Regions from separate parts of the Homo sapiens genome. Here region 2 is linked to region 1. A link means that fine-mapping ties the variant in region 1 to the expression of a gene that starts in the linked region. Tissue or cell type: whole blood. Region 1 holds a variant in brackets; the other region holds the start of a gene. All regions are shown on one strand. Distances are between the middles of the regions.

What was found. PIP is the estimated chance that this variant, and not a neighbour inherited with it, causes the effect.
Region 2: CCDC146 starts here. The variant in region 1 is fine-mapped to the expression of CCDC146 in whole blood (INTERVAL, PIP above 0.99). The same link has a PIP of 0.9 or more in blood mononuclear cells.

The regions. Positions count from the first base shown.
Region 1 is chr7:77,189,168-77,197,274 of GRCh38, forward strand. The region is part of intron 2 of CCDC146 (coiled-coil domain containing 146); the gene reads left to right. It overlaps FGL2 (fibrinogen like 2), which reads right to left. Exons shown (of 2, transcript NM_006682.3): 2 at 4,202-7,818. The coding sequence ends at 7,112. Among named protein-coding and RNA genes, the nearest start is that of FGL2, 6.6 kb to the right of the region's middle. The variant T/C (reference allele first, on the strand shown) is at 4,147.
Region 2 is chr7:77,119,096-77,127,202 of GRCh38, forward strand. It overlaps CCDC146 (coiled-coil domain containing 146), which reads left to right and starts at 3,520. Exons shown (of 19, transcript NM_020879.3): 1 at 3,520-3,637. It overlaps LOC124901678 (a long non-coding RNA gene), which reads right to left. Exons shown (of 3, transcript XR_007060391.1): 3 at 7,411-7,677. It also overlaps the pseudogene FAM185BP. RefSeq lists enhancers at 2,309-2,810, 2,811-3,310 and a silencer at 3,206-3,305.

The sequences.
Region 1 (8,107 bases):
CCTCCCACCCCACTCCATTCCACTCCTCACACACTTTGCAGACAGGCTTCCCCTGCAGACTTCCGCATTTCTGTTCCTGGCAGCTCCATCCTTCACAGTTGCTCAGACTAAAATCTTGCGGTTTTCTATAATGCCTCTAATTGTTATTATCTACCACTGGCTGACCTTTGATCAGCAAATTTTGTCACCTCTACCTTCAAAATAGATGTATCTCACTGCAACTTTTCATCATGCTTTCCTCATCACTTAGCAAGAATATTGCAAACATCAAACTGATGTCCTTGCTTCAATCCTTGGTTCCCTACAGTCTGTTTTCCACTTAGCTACAAAAGCGACCCCTTTAAAACTGGTTGAGATCATGTCTTTCCTCTGCTCAAAACCCTTACGGCTCTTATCTACTCAGTGTAAAAGGCACAGTCCTTACCATGGCTTAAAGGCCTAGGTAATCCGGTATACCACTCCTATCCCTTGTTCATCCCCAACCACCCAAGCTGTCTCTGATCTCATCTTCTCACCACCCCAGACCCTCTGCTGTTTCACACAGACATCTTTGCTGACCTTCAAACATGCTATCCACTCTTCCAGGCTTGGGGCTTTTGCACCTAATGTTCCCTTTGTTTGAAACACACTTATCCCAGACATCTGCCTGGTTTGAGCTCTCATATCTTTAGGTCTCTGTTCAAATTTCACCTCCACAGACAGGCCTCTTCTGACTGCTCTATATGAAACAGCACCCCCTTTTCTACTACTCCCTTACTCTCCTTAATTTTTAATGGTATTTATCATGTATTTGTCTCCTCTGATAAATATTTACCATATATTTGTCTCTACTACCCGCTGCATGAGTGTAAGATTTTTATCCGTGTTGGTCACTGATAAATCTCCAGCCTCCTAGAAGACTGACACATGGTGTGCACTCAGTGAATACTCGATGAATGAATTAAGGCTAACTTTACCCCAGCATTTCTATCTCCATAAGTCTGAGTTCGAAGACATTTCTGGCTTCTCAACTTTAGTTACCATGAGCTGCTATTGAATGTAAGTTTGTATTAACTAAGCAAGCAAACTATTAGACTCAAACATGTCTTCTCAAGATAGCCTGTTGAATCTATAATTTCTGGTAAATATACCTATACCAGTAAATTCAGTCACATCTAAAATTGTTTCTTCCTTAATCAGGCAACCTCAGTCTCTCTCTACATGTCTTCTCCAGCCTTCTGCTGATATAAGTTAGCAAAGTTGTGCAAAGCCTTCTCTTTCCATTAGACTTTAGAACTGATACTGGGGCATGCCCTGATGATGAATCTGGAGATGCTGATGAGTGGGATGAAGGAGCCTAAGGAAGAATTTGGAGTGTTCCCCCAGGAAAGAAAGCAACAGTGCCCTCCAGCAAGAGGACATCCTCATCAATGTCAGGGGAGGGACTACTTCAAAAAGCAAGGGGGGGCCCACTCATGTTTGGGAATTCGGGACACTCCATGTTTTCAAAGTATACCCATTTCCTCTCATTTCCACCTCTTTCCAGTCAATCAACAAAGGAGACCTGGCAAGCTTATGACTTAGTAGACATTGTGATCTGGCAATGCACAGAATGAAATTAAAGTTGGGAATTGGCCACCTCGGCTTGTTACCTCTGGGGAGAGGGACAGGATTGAAATTGAAGGTGATTTGTGAAGGAGTCTTTATTTTAATCTGTAACTTTTTAAAAAATTAAAGGATTCATGGATTTTATATTAAAATTAATTTCAAAATTATTCCTGCTTTTTTCTTCAGGAATTCAGTAGGGTGGAACAATCACTATTGGGCAGGTACAGCAATATGCCTCTGTGTGACATGTCCCCACAGGCATGTTCCTAGGACCCCTTCTAAAAGTTTGCCACTGTTACATTCCCAGTCCTATAGTATACAGTAAGTCCTCACTTAACATCATGGATAGGTTCTTGGAAACAGCAACTTTAAGCAAAAACAGCATATTGTATGCCATAGGAACTTCATTCTTGTTTATGTCAATTAGCTTATGGTAAAATTGGTTTTGTTACATGGTATGTTGTTTTAACGTCGCTGTTTCTGAGAACCTATCAACAGCGTTAAGTGAGGACTTACTGTATTTGATCCTGTCTTGCCATATTCTCCCTGGCTGTAATTGCTTCTCACCTATGTTCACAGTCTCTCATATCCGCAGATTTGACCCTACCCACTACTTTCCCAATCATAACTGTGGCCTCTTTAGAGTACAACTCTTTCTCTGTGGCAACATATTATTAATCACTTTGAATAACAATACTCATGTCTCAAATTTCCTTTACTCCTATTCACACAGATTGATTTCAGGATAGAACTTAGACAATATTGAATAATATATAATAAGGAATATGTAGGATGGCATAAGATCTAGGAGAGGTGCCAGGACCCCACCTACTGTCATCAGAGAACTCTGCCTATAAGAGATAACTATTTAGGGCCTGGCGCAGTGGCTCACGCCTGTAATCCCAGCACTTTGGGAGGCCAAGGTGGGCGGATCACGAGGTCAGGAGATCGAGACCATCCTGGCTAACACGGTGAAACCCAGTCTCTACTAAAAATACAAAACAAATTAGCTGGGTGTGGTGGCGGGCACCTGTAGTCCTAGCTACTTGGGAGGCTGAGGCAGGAGAATGGTGTGAACCCAGGAGGCGGAGCGTGCAGTGAGCCGAGATGGTGCTACTGCACTCCAGCCTGGGCGACAGAGCAAGACTCCATCTCAAAAAATAAAAAATAATAATAACTACTTAGGATGATGATGATTTTTTTTCTCTGTCACCCAGGCTGGAGTGCAGTGGCGCCATCTCTGCTCACTGCAACCTCTGTCTGCCAGGTTCAAGCAATTCTCCTGCCTCAGCTTCCTGAGTAGCTGGGACTACAGGTGTGAGCCACCACACCTGGCTAATTTTTGTATTTTTAGTAGAGATGGGGTTTCACCATGTTGGCCAGGCTGGTCTCACGTGATCCGCCCACCTCGGCCTCCCAAAGTGCTGGGATTACAGGCATGTGCCACCAACACCCAGCTGGGAATGATGATTTTTAAATATATATGTTCTAGGTGCTTTATATATGTGATTTAATCCTCTCAATAACTCTATCAGGCAGATTCTATTACTATTCCTATTTTATAATTGAAGGAACCAAAGAACATTAAGTGACTTGCCCAGGATCATACAGCTTGCAAATAGTGGAGCTGAAATTCAAACCAGGAAGGCCAGCTCCTGAGTTCCTGCTGTTAATCATGGGTGATAAGACAAAACCCAGTGAGGAAAGAGGATGGCATTCTATCTAGACCAAGGAAACAGTATACTAAAGGCAATGAAAACATTAGAAAGCGTAGTTTGTTTGTGTACAACAAGGCGTTTAGTATGGCAGAAGTATAAGTAGTGGTAAAAATCATTTCATGAAGGGACTTATTTGCCAGATTTTATCTTGTAGAAAATAAGGCATTGTTGGCCGGGCACGGTGGCTAATGCCTGTAATCCCAGCACTTTGCGAGGCCTAGGCGGGTGGATCACGAGGTCAGGAGATCGAGACCATCCTGGCTAACATGGTGAAACCCCGTCTCTACTAAAAATACAAAAATTAGCTGGGCGAGGTGGCAGGCGTCTGTAGTCCCAGCTACTCAGGAGGCTGAGAGAGGAGAATGGCGTGAACCCAGGAGGCAGAGGTTGCAGTGAGCCGAGATCTCGCCATTGCACTCCAGCCTGGGCGACAGAGTGAGACTCCGTCTCTAAAAAAAATAAAATAAAATAATAAAAAAAAAGAAAAGAAGGCGTTGTTGAAAGTTTTTTAAGCAGGACAATAACATGATCAGAATTGTACTTTTGAACAATCCCCCTGGTAGGGATGAAAGTTGGACTGGAATAGACTGAAACCAGAGGTACAGACTATTCAGATGCGTTTGTGTTGTCCTAAGGAGATGAAGAGGGCTAACCAGAGCAGCAACACTAATAACGGAAAAAGAGGAGAGGAAGTTGAATGCCACAAAATGAAACTGAAACTTTTGTATTTCAAATGTTTCAACAGTATTCTAGAGGGAAGTAAGATAATGGTGTTCCTCTATTTGCCTCTGACTTCTTGTTAATGAAATAGTACTCATTAAAGTCTTCAGAGTCACAGATA[T/C]TGTATAGCTGAGGTAAGCATTTTACAACTTTTCAGACACAAGTAAGTACATAAATATTATTTTACAACCAACAATATTTAATATTTCCACATTGAAGAATAGATGTGATAATTAAATCTTTTATAAGGTTTTAAAAAGACATGAAACATAAACCTAATTATACATAAAAGAAAAGAATTTTAAACAAGAGCTTATTGTGATGACATTACTCATAACTTTTACCTTTAAAACCTTTTCTTGGGTAGCTATTCAAAAGTAAAGACCACAAGTTTTGTTGCCCAGATTTCTTATGTTTTGTATATTTAAGCTCTTTATTTATTGAACAGATGTGTCATTAATTCATTTGGAGCATTACTATTATCAGTAAAATTTGATTTTTTTTTCCCCTCAGTCATAGGTAAATCAGCTCCACCTGGAATTTCTAAGGACCCAGTTTTAGTCAATATTTTCAAGTAATCATGACCTCAGAAATAGTCTTAATTAAGATAACAAATATTAGCCATCAAAATGGAACCAAGACAAGATTCTAATGTTTGTAAACAGTCAATCCATATTTATGAATATTAGCATATATTGGTGAATAGTTAAGGCAAAAGGTTCTAGCAGATGTAATCTATTTCCATCAACATGTTAAATGTTATAAAAGTCTAGAATTATTGGTAACATGAAATGATTCCAAAATGGAATTTCTGTGTTACAGAATTTACTAGAAAAGTGCTGTGAAAGTATAATGAAAAATAAAGTGATCCCTTGAAATAATGTGGATAGAACAAGCTTTTGAATATTTACATGGATTAATGAATTATTTGCCAAATTCTCCTGAAGTTATACCTAGTTCCCATTAAATTAATGGACACCGTGTATATGAGCATATACCTTTCTTTAGAACTATGTTTTGTGATAAGTCCATTTTTACTCACAGGAATTTACTTAAACTTGTACATATATTAATTATATATACTAAATGACAATGACCTTATCTGAAACAAATACATTGTATAATATCAAAACGTTTTTAGTCTTTTTTAAAAAGTAAAAAGTAAAAAACAACGTCAGTTACATCATTTACATTTGGTATCCCACCTAATAGAGACACAGCTTTTGAAATCTACAATATTTTACATTTTGGTCATCATTTAATGCTATTTGCATTTCTCTTTAACATTTTAATAGTATTTGTGATATATCATGTTTAACTGAAAGCTTTGGGTTATATATTTTAAAGGAATATCTTACTTTTTGACTAAATAGTTCTGTAAGGGCCTAATATTTGAAAAATTAGCTTGTTACCTGAAGCAACTATCCTCCTTAATCATTTTAAAATAATGGGTAAAGATGCATCTTTGTAAATATATTTTGAAAACTTGGTTAGTGTATTAGAAACAGACACCAGAAATTAAAAAAATTATTTCTAGGACTGGCATACACTACAGTGAATTACTTCAAATGTTACTCTAGAGCATTTTTAAAAATACGCAGAATACTGCTGTTCTCTCTGAGATGATCCCTTTTTACGATGATGAAATTAAACACATTTAAAAAGTCTTTTAAATATTATATATAGCATTCCAGAATTGATGAATTATAAAAATTACAGATACTTCTGTTTGGGTAAAAATCTATCTTTTAGTTTCTGATAGTAAAATAAGCAATCTACCAGCCAGGGTTGAAATATATAGTATTTTAACTACTGTTCTATATATTTCAAAATTCATGTTTTCTATCTGTCCTAGAGAAACTTAGCCTTCTATGAAGTGAATCACTTAATGATATTATTGCTTTGGAGATAAAATTGGCCTCAGAGTATGATAGCCTGTAAGTAAATGCTTCATTACCCACATATCCCTACCCACCCCCCCCAAAAAAACCTACCAGTAGTCTAGTACAGTAGTGAGCAATCTTAAATTAAAAGCTATTGTTCACACAGAGCAGAGGAAGATAATTTTCATGTTAAAGCAGTTTTCAACATCAAACATCTAAGGAGTTATAAACTATAAATGAATTACCTTTAAACCCTGGTCTTCACAGTTACATTGCTTTCTGAATGCTTTTTGGGGTGACATTATGCTACCACATTTTTAAACGGTTTAAATGACAAGTATTTTATATTTCATGAATGATAAATGAACAAGTTTAATTATATAGATATTAGTTCCCTTAGTCTGGGAACCAAAATGCTGTAGGGTTGTTCTGTTGCAAAGTAAATGATATAGATTAAGTTTGTCTCAGAATGAAGATTACCCAAATAATTATAGCCTGAAAAGAGTGATATACCTTCAGATGTGCTTAAATCATGGCCCAAATACAGATTACTTTGTGTAGAATCCAGCCTACTGAATAAATTTTATTATTTTTTTGTTTGAGACAGAGTTTTCTCTGTCACCCATGCTGGAGTGCAGTGGCTCAGTCTTGGCTCACTGCAACCTCTTCCTCTCAGGTTCAAGCGATTCTCCTGCCTCAGCCTCCCAAGTAGCTAGGATTACAGGCATGTACCACCATGCCCGGCTAATTTTTGTATTTTTAATAGAGACAGCGTTTCACATGTTTGGCCAGGCTGGTCTCAAACTCCTGACCTCAAGTGATCTGCCTGCCTTGACATTCCAAAGTGCTGGGATTACAGGCGTGAGCTACCACACCCAGCCAACAATTATTTTTTAAATACAGCAAGTAATACAAGCAATAGAAAAAGTTTCAATAGAAATTAAAAGAATTGTAAATCTAATGTATAATTCTCAATATTGCTAATTGCTTGCAAGTGTTCATTGGATAACAGCATAACAACAAAGGACTCCTTTAAAATGCATTGTTTTTCAGCTTTATTTCAAATGCTGTGTAGCATAAGAACCTAGCCGTCAGACATCATTTTTTAGCTATGAAAAATATGAAACAAGGCATATTCTAAAGTGCTGAAGGAATTAATTGCCCTATTAGATAACGAATACCTGGAGGAATGAACAGAGTGATTTATGGCTTAAAGTGCTTGGGTCTGATCATCATCTTAGCCTCTTTGAAGGAGGACTTGTAGCCACCAGGGTGTGCCTCACTTACACCAGGCCAGGTACCCCAGAAAATCCCATTACGGACACCTCTGTATTTTTGGTGATAATATTTGCCATTTAAGTTTGCAGAAAGACATGCATCAAACCACCAGCCTGAACTGTAGTACAGCCCACAGTTCCCAGAAGGATATCGATCATTGTCTTTATCTGGAGTGGTGAAAAACTTCAGATCGTGGTTGTAATGTTTGTTGAAACGTAATGCATCTCCAGCTGTGCCATTATAGTTACCAACGTGTAAACGATATTTGAGAAACTCATTAGCCACATAAAACTGATCATACAAGGCATATAGTTCGACACCATTAAAGTCTTCAAGATCTATTCTCAGAATCATTTCCTTACTCTTGGTCAGAAGATGAATTTTATCGTTCCCCAGCCAAAATTCCCTTCTGAGGTTTCCAAAGCCTGCTTTGTAGTCTTGCCATGTTCTGGTGAAGTTGGTGCTCCCATCGAGACGTGCCTGCAGCACTGTCCAGCCTCCCCCCATGGTCTCCATGTCACAGTAAACTTCAAAGCTACTATTTTTGGGATCAGGTGTAACTCTGTAGGTCTCACTGCTTCTTTTGCCTATTGCGTAGTAGTCAGAGCAATCTTTATATATTAGATGTTGAACTGAAGGGGAAATAAAAGGAAGGCATTGGATCTTGTTAATAGAAACCATGCATCTGAAGAATTCTTTATATGTACAAAAGCAGTTTGATAATTGAATCAATGGCAGTAATGAAACTTTACTAAACTTACTTGAACCTGTTTAGCAAATGCTTAAGGCCTCACAAGAAGAACCTAATGTTATAAAGCAGAAAGGACCTCTAATATACTCTTGGTTGGTAGTAATAATGACAGCATCAACAGCAAACGACAATAAGAAAATAATAAAAGTACAGTTTTAATAATTTAGTAT
Region 2 (8,107 bases), 70 kb before region 1:
TCCTTAAGTAATGAGCTAGCTACCTGGTACATTAAAAATGTGATTAAAGTCATCTAATATTTAAGCACATTTATAGTGCACAAAGATTCTTCCTTACTCTTTAATAAAATGGAAGAAAATCATTTGTGGAAACTAAAATTTCTTTAGTAAGATTTCAGAATACTAGGAAAATACTATTAGTTTCACTGTACACTTTGAAATTAAATCAAAAAGAAATTTGAGGCAAAACCTCAAAACTGCTATAACCTCTGTACTTTACTAGAACTGATTTCAAGGCAAAATGTTTGCCAAGGACTTTCTGAGAGATGAATAAATGACAATGTTCTGAAAAACAGAAGAATCTCTTGAGTTTGATAGTACGATTCATAGCTTAAGGCTTTTAAAAAAATAATAGTGAAATAAAATTAGAAAAATGCTATACCTTAACAGACTGCAAGATGCTAGTCCCATGCTCTGTTTCAATTTTGCAATTATCACCCTCAATACTTTGAACTTCTACACAGCCAGACCCTGATGACTTGATATCTAAACCTAGAAGTAAAAAAAGAAAAAAGCAAGTTAGTACTGCAGTTTATAAGCTCCAAAGCATTTTAACCTAGAAACCCAACTCCTCAGTTATGTCCATAATATTGCTGAATCCTGGAAAGTGCATACTGTAAAGGTAAGGGGTCTTCTACCACGGCAACGGGACCAAATACAATAGCCTTTCTGCCCGTTTTTAGAAACAGAGCAGTTATTTCTACTGGCCTAAATCACCTAAAGAGAACTAACATAGATGGGAAGTAAAGGAGACTACGATTCTGTTAAGTACTCCTGTGAAAGACTGTAGAAGCCTCTTCCCCAGTATATATGATCATGACTTAGGTTTTCAAATCCTATGTCTAACCTTTCATACTTAAAAAATGAAAATATTACCATGCAACTATATCACAAGGTATTTGAAGTAATTTTTTAAAAATGGGAACAACTTTGAAAAACCTAATATATACTATTAAAACTACAAGATTAGGCCATGAGCCGTGGCTCATGCCTGTAATACCAGCACTTTGGGAGGCCGAGGAAGGAGGATTGCTTGAAGCCCAGGAGTTCAAGACCAGCCTGGACAATGTGGCAAAACTCCCTTTCTACAAAAAAACAAAAACATTAGCCAGGCATGGTAGCATGCACCTGTAGTCCCAGCTACTCAGGAGGCGGAGGCGAGAAGATTGCTTAAAACCGTGAAGTCAAGACTGCAGTGGGCCATGATTGTGCACCTGTACTCCAGCCTGCATGGCAGAGTGAGTGAGATGCAGTCTCAAAAAAAACCAAAACAAACAAACAAAAAACCCCACAAGATTGTGGACAAATGGCAGTGGTACATGAAGCAAGTTTGGAAAATAAGGAATTACAAATGCCATCCTTGGCTGTCTATTTAAGATGTAACTGCAGGCATCGCTGTATACAAATTTTAAAAATTAAAAACGCTGATATTTAATTTGGAATTAACATAAATATTGATGATTTCTCTTAAAGTAGGCAAGACCCGCCCCCCCGACTTGATTCCTGAAACCACAAATAGTACCAAATCCTATATATTCTATGTTTTTTCCTGTATACATATCAATGATCAAGTTTAATTTATAAACTAGGCATAGTAAGAGATGAACAACAATAATAATAAATACAGCAATTATAACAATATACTGTAATAAAAGTTATATTACTGTGATCTGTCAAAATATCTTAATATTTTCCTACAACAGTTGAGGCAGGTAACAAACTCAGACAGCCAAACGGTGGATAAGGGAGGACTACGGCATCTACTATTTGGGCAACTGTAAGCATTATAAAAGATGATCTTAAAAATGCTAAATGCTATTATTATTACCATCATCATCATCATCAATATCTTCCTTCAGTCCCAGGAAGAATGACAGTCTGGGGAGCCCTTCCTAGAAAAGTGTGTGTACACAGTGGCTTGCCATTTAGGAAAACCTAAGAAAGGTATCTTGCAGGCATTATTATTGAAGCTTCCTAGGCAGGCTTACCATGTGTTTTTCTTCAAAGCTTGCTACTCATGGAAAACTTAGGCCAAAAAGAATGGAAACATAACAGTAAGAAGCTGGGCGCCCGTCTAAAACCAAATACTCAAACCAGGTGGTACCTGGAACATCCTATTGACAGGGCTGTTTTGGGACACACCCCCAGGCTGTGAGCAAGGGGAAATGTAGATGGACTGCCATACCATTGAATGAATTGTCAAGAAACTTCAACCTTGAAAAATAAGCCAGTTTGCTAATGACAACGGGATAAAGAAGAACACAAGCGGCTCCAGAAATAGAATTTGACCTGGATTATACCAAATCGTGTTTCCATTCGATGTATAAAATTTCTATAATTGGGAACCTAATTTTTTAAATACTACTCGGATACTCAAGAATAGAACAGAGGAAAAGTTGCATTTCCGAAGGGGCCAACTGTAAATTAGGTTTAGAAAGCCAGGACCAATTAAAAGTGCACGTCGACCAAATTTATTAAGTTCACTGTGCGTTCCCTGGGACCCAAACCCGTTTTCACTTCACTTCACTTGCCAAACTTCAGGGGCGCGTTCACCTCCACGGACGCCTGGGGGTGGATAGTATCAGACACAATGGCCATCTCCTCCAGATCCTCGTCGTACTTCACCTGCAGGCCGTCCAGGCCCCGCACGCCGCCCTCCACGCCGCACACCGCGACCAGCACGCGGTCGCCATCCGGGTAGGTGAGGGGGTCCAGGGGCCTCACGGCCAGGTGGCACGGGAGCCGCGCCCGCAGCCGACCGAACGGGCTCACCTGCAGTGTCCACTCCTTCAGAGTTCGGCGCGCCGGGCCAGGCGGAGGGACCTCAGTCTCCGATCCGGGCCAGCGCTCGCCCCTACCTGAGCTGTACGGCCTGGCTTGGCAAGCCCAGCAAGACCAGCGCCCAGCGCCAGCCCACAGTCGGACCTGACGGAGACAGAGACGGAAGCAGCCAAGCTCCCAACCTGAACAGGGGGCAAGCATGGCGCGCCTCTCTCGCCAGTCCTCAGAACACTTCAGCCACAGGGAGGGTCACTTGCCACGGCCAATCGACTTGGCCACTGTGCCGCCTCAAGTCAAATAGGAGACGTAAGTCAGGGTTTGCTGAAACAAGAGCGAGCCGGTTGGCTTGACTAGGCGATGTAAACATCAGCTGCGTAATCCCCAGGGGCAAGTTGGGATTTGAAAGCTCTGAACTCTGACCTGGACCCCTTGCCTAAGTCCACCCCCTTTCGCTAAGGCCGACGGGATACGTAGTTCTAAAGCGGTGGAAAGTCGCAGAGCTCCGCCTCTTAGAAACCACATATCCCAGGAGGCAATGCGCAGGGGAGCACGGGTAAGAGGGCAGGTGTTAGAATCGCTGGAAAGGCGGGCGCCCTTTGTTTCAAGACCATTGGCTATTGGAGGGGCGGTACATGGGAGGCCACTGGCCAATGGGAAGCACGGAAGGGGGCAACGAGGGTAAAGCTGCATGGTCACCTTGGATACCAAGGACGCGACTTCTTGTTTGGAGAGGGTGGAGCTTTGGAGTGAGACCCAGGAGGCCAAATCCCAAAGAGAAAAATAGGAGCCTAAATAAGGATCAGGACCAAGGGAAGGGGTAAGAAACTGCGCTTTTTAAGTTGACAACTAGGTGCAAACTAGGAGTAACCTATGTGGATGTCAAGATCCAAGCTTCACTAACCTAGTGCGGGCATCTCCAGGGCATGGAGAATGCCTTGGTAAGAGAGTAAAGAGCAAGATTGGTGCTTTTTGAGGGAATTGCCTCTTTGGAAGTGTATTCCCTCCTATATTCCAAATATAGGAATAGAGTACTTGCTCCGTCCTGACCCTAAGTGACCTTACTTTGGGTTTTAATTTGCTCACTTTAAAAATGTAGATGATAATACCTTCCTTGCCTTGCCTCAAAGGGTTTTTGTGAGGATCAAGTAAGAAAATGGATGGGACCGTGGTGCACAGTCTACCAAATTACCGTGTAAAGTACTGTATTTTTATTTCAACGTACTTAACATTGATTCTGAGTTACCAAGAAAATTATGAGAGATCAGAACTTGTTTTGAGAATAGCATTGATCTCTTTGACTACAAATGATCATCAGTTTTAGAGTGAAAAAAAAAAAGACACAAAAAAGAGAGTCACCATGGTGCGGTGGAAAGAGCAGGGACAAGGGTCAGATTATTTTCCTGGCTCTGCCACTGCTTCATCTGTGTCACCTAGACCTGTTTCTTTAGTTTTAAAATGAAGAAAGATGGTTCTAAATGACCCTATAAGGTGTGTGTGTGTGTGTGTGTGTGTGTGTGTGTGTGTGTGTGTGTGTGTGTGTGTTTACCTTTTATAATTCTATGGGCAGTAAAATAATGGGAACAGAAAGATTTATTTTCTTCTTTTTTTCTTCTTTCCTGCCTGGTTTCTCTCTCCCCCTCTGTGCCCCTACTTCCTCCTAAAATGTATTCCCTAAATTATTTAGCCAAGACACCTGCAAACACTAACATTTCATAAAATGCAAGTGCCTTAAAAAATTGAAGCCCTTACCCAAGTACAATGACCAGAATTCTTGGGGCTATCGTGATAGATAGACTGGGCTAAAGTTCTCATGGGTACAAGTCTCAGGTTCTCTGCTAGCCACTACCTTTTTAAAATTTTTAAAAATTCAGTGTTCTCTTAAGTTATCATTGCCTCTTTTCTGTCCTTCTAGTCCTTGCTCCCTCCTTATTCTTCTTTCGGTGAAGACTCACTCATTATAGGTGCTAGCTCAGGTTCAGCAAGGGCCCACTGCAATAGTTCTTTTCTTGTCTTTGTGTTTCATTGGTTATAATTATTCAGAATAATCTTCAAACTATTTTTTATGAAAATTGACAGGTGTAACTTTGAAAAGAAATTTGAAAAAGGCACTGGTTTAAGGAAGTTGAGAATGTACTCAAATTTTCTGTAGAAACACTAGACATTTTTAGATTAAATATTAATTCTTAATAGTTAATTCTGTGTCTATGGTAATTTTTCCGTTTCTGAGACAAACTAAGTTAATGGAATTGGCAACTGAACTATAATTTTCTATGTTGCATAATCATTATTTTACTTTTTCAAACAAAAACCAAATAGAATTGACTGAAAATTTACTTTGCTGATCATACAAGGTTGAAAATGGAGAAAATTATTAATATTAAGATTGGTATAAAATAGTTAAAGTTATAGACACTTAAAAACAGTATAATGAGTATCAAATCTGTCCACATATCAACAATGATTAATAAAAGTTGTATCTTCCATCCATATGACATTATAATTGTCAAACCATGTTCACATGCGTCATCTCACTGTATCCTCACTAATTAGGAGGGAAATTATTCTCCTCACACTATAGATGGGGAAACAGATTCAGAAACATTAAGATTAAGCAATTAGAAGGTCTGGCCCTTTTATCACTCTACCAAAACGTCCATTTTCCTGACACCTTTGAAGAAAAAATGAAATTATTCACCTCATAAGTAGAAAATTATATACAACTTTTTTCTCCTTATTTAGAGTTTGTTTCTAAGATATTTTCACATCTTAGTTTAAAAAAGCTATTTCTGTGGTCATGAACATATACTTCTGGTAGGAGTGTTAAGTTAGCACAAAATTTTTAGAGTTCAATTCAGCAATAAGAATGAAAAGCTTTTTCTATGACTCAGAAATTGTGCTTTTGGGGATGTAAGCATAAAATTAGGGATGCTCAAGGAATTATGTTTTATAGGGTTACTTGTAAGAGAAAATAATTGCATCAATTTAAATGCTCCCTGGCCAGGTGCAGTGGCTCATGCCTGTAATTTCAGCACTTTGGGAGGCTGAGACAGGTGGATCACCTGAGGTCAGGAGTTCAGGACCAGCCTGGCCAACATGGTGAAACTCCATCTCTACTAAAAATTAAAAAAATTAGCTTGGCGTAGTGATGGACACCTGTAATCCCAGCTACTCAGGAGGCTGAGACAGGAGAATCACTTAAACACAGGAGGTAGAGGTTGCAGTGAGCCGAGATCACACCACTGCACTCCAGCCTGGGCGGCAAGAGTGAAACTCTGTCTCAATAAAAAAATGTTAAATGCTCCCAAATAAGACAGTATTACATAAATTAGTATATAGCTGATATATTATGCAACAATTTAAACATATCTTGATATGGGAAATAGTCCATATATAAAGTGAAAAGAATATATACAAAATTGCACGTATAGTATGATCTCAATTGTGTAATAATAATAATAAATTTAACATAAAATTATACTTTACAGAAACAATTCCAGAGGGATATATACCACTTGATAACAGTTGTTATCTTTAAGCAGTGATATGATGAGTGGTTACTGCAATTTTTTGTGTGTTATCAATAGTGAAAATATATTACATTTATAAGAAAACAATTTTAAAGCATTTCTTAGCATATATTGTTTCCTAAAACTGACTCAAATAATCAGATGGGCAGAAGATTTCTTACCATCTAGATATAAATGTCAACGAATATTTTATTTAATGATTTATGTTCAATAAATGGACAGCAGAGGTCATAAGAGAGTTTTCAGAAGAAAAGGTAACCAAAACAAAGAATTCAGCAATTTAGCTTAAGAGAAAAGCCATAAGAATTTAACTTTCTGAATTATAAACTATTTAAAAAGAGATATATCTTATGACTTCTATTATTCTTATGAAATATTAATAAACTCAACAATCTTAACTAATAACTATCAACATTGAGAAGTATTTAATGAATATATATAGGTACTAATTCTATTTGAAATCTCTATGTGAAACTGCAAATAGACAGTTTTATTTCTTCCTTTCTCATCTGTATGGCTTTTCTTTCCTAGTGTTATTGCACTGGCTAAGACCGCCACTACAATATTGAGTTGGAGTGGCAAAAGCAAAAATCCTTGATTTATTTCCTATTTATGAGGGAAATTTCAACAACAATTAGGAAGTTAGCAGTAGATTTTTAAAGATGCCCTTTAGCAAGTTAAGGAAGTTTACTTTCTAATTTGCTTAGACTTTTTATCATAAGTGAATGTTGCATTTTGTCAAATGCTTTTTCTGTATCTATGAAGATGATCATATTGTTTTTCTTCTGATTTATTGATATGTGTATTACAGTGATTGATTTTCAAGTGTTTCATTCCCTCAATAAGCTACATTTCATCATGTTATTGTCAGGGAGTTTTGGGTTGTCAATTTCCTGGCCAGAAACCTCTGTGGCCACAGCACCTTTGCCCGAATTCTTGTCCTGCATCCAGGAAGAATGAGGTACGCAGACAAGTGAAGGGTGAACGAGACGAAGATGAGCTTTATTAAGTGTTACAAGAGCTCAGAGGAGACCCACAGTGGGTAGCTCCTCTCTGTAGGAAGATCATCTGTCCAGCATTCAGTTCTCATTAGAGAGGTGGCCCTGGAGAGGGTAGCTCCTCTCTACTACTGGTTGTCCCAATGTCTGCAGCTCTCAGTGGAGAGGAGGCCCTGGAGAGGGTGCCTCCTGTCTGCTGGCAGGTTGTCTCTGAAGCTCTCGGCAGAGACGGTAGCTCCTTTCTGCAGCTGGTCCTTGTGTAGTCTGTCTATCCTCTTCGTCCTTTGGCCATCGTCTGCCCTGCTCTGGCTGAGCCCAGGGCTTTTATGGACCTCAGAGGGGAGGAAGTGCATGCTGATTGGTCCATGGGCAGCCATGGGCTGCTGGAAGAGGCCCCATGAGTCCCCAAACTGGTATGCAGGACCAGCAGTTGGCCCCCAGCCTTCAGGCCCTCCCTGGACTGAAGGTAGAGCCTTACTGGGGACCTGCCCCCTTCCACCCAAGAATCTGTCTGCCTCCCGCTGCCATTCATGGCCCCAGGGCTCAACCCCAACCCCACTCCAAGATCTGAGCCAGCTCCAGGAGAGGAGAGAGGTCAGGCAGCGGGAGCAGACACCCCAAGCCTGCAGGGATGGGGGGCCTTCCGGGGCACCAGAGGGTACAGGCTGCAGAGATGCCTGGGTCCCGTGGGTGAGAGGGCAGTGGCAGCTGCACCCAGGGAGCTCCCGCAGGCCAACTCAGCAGGGGCGGGATTCCCCAGCT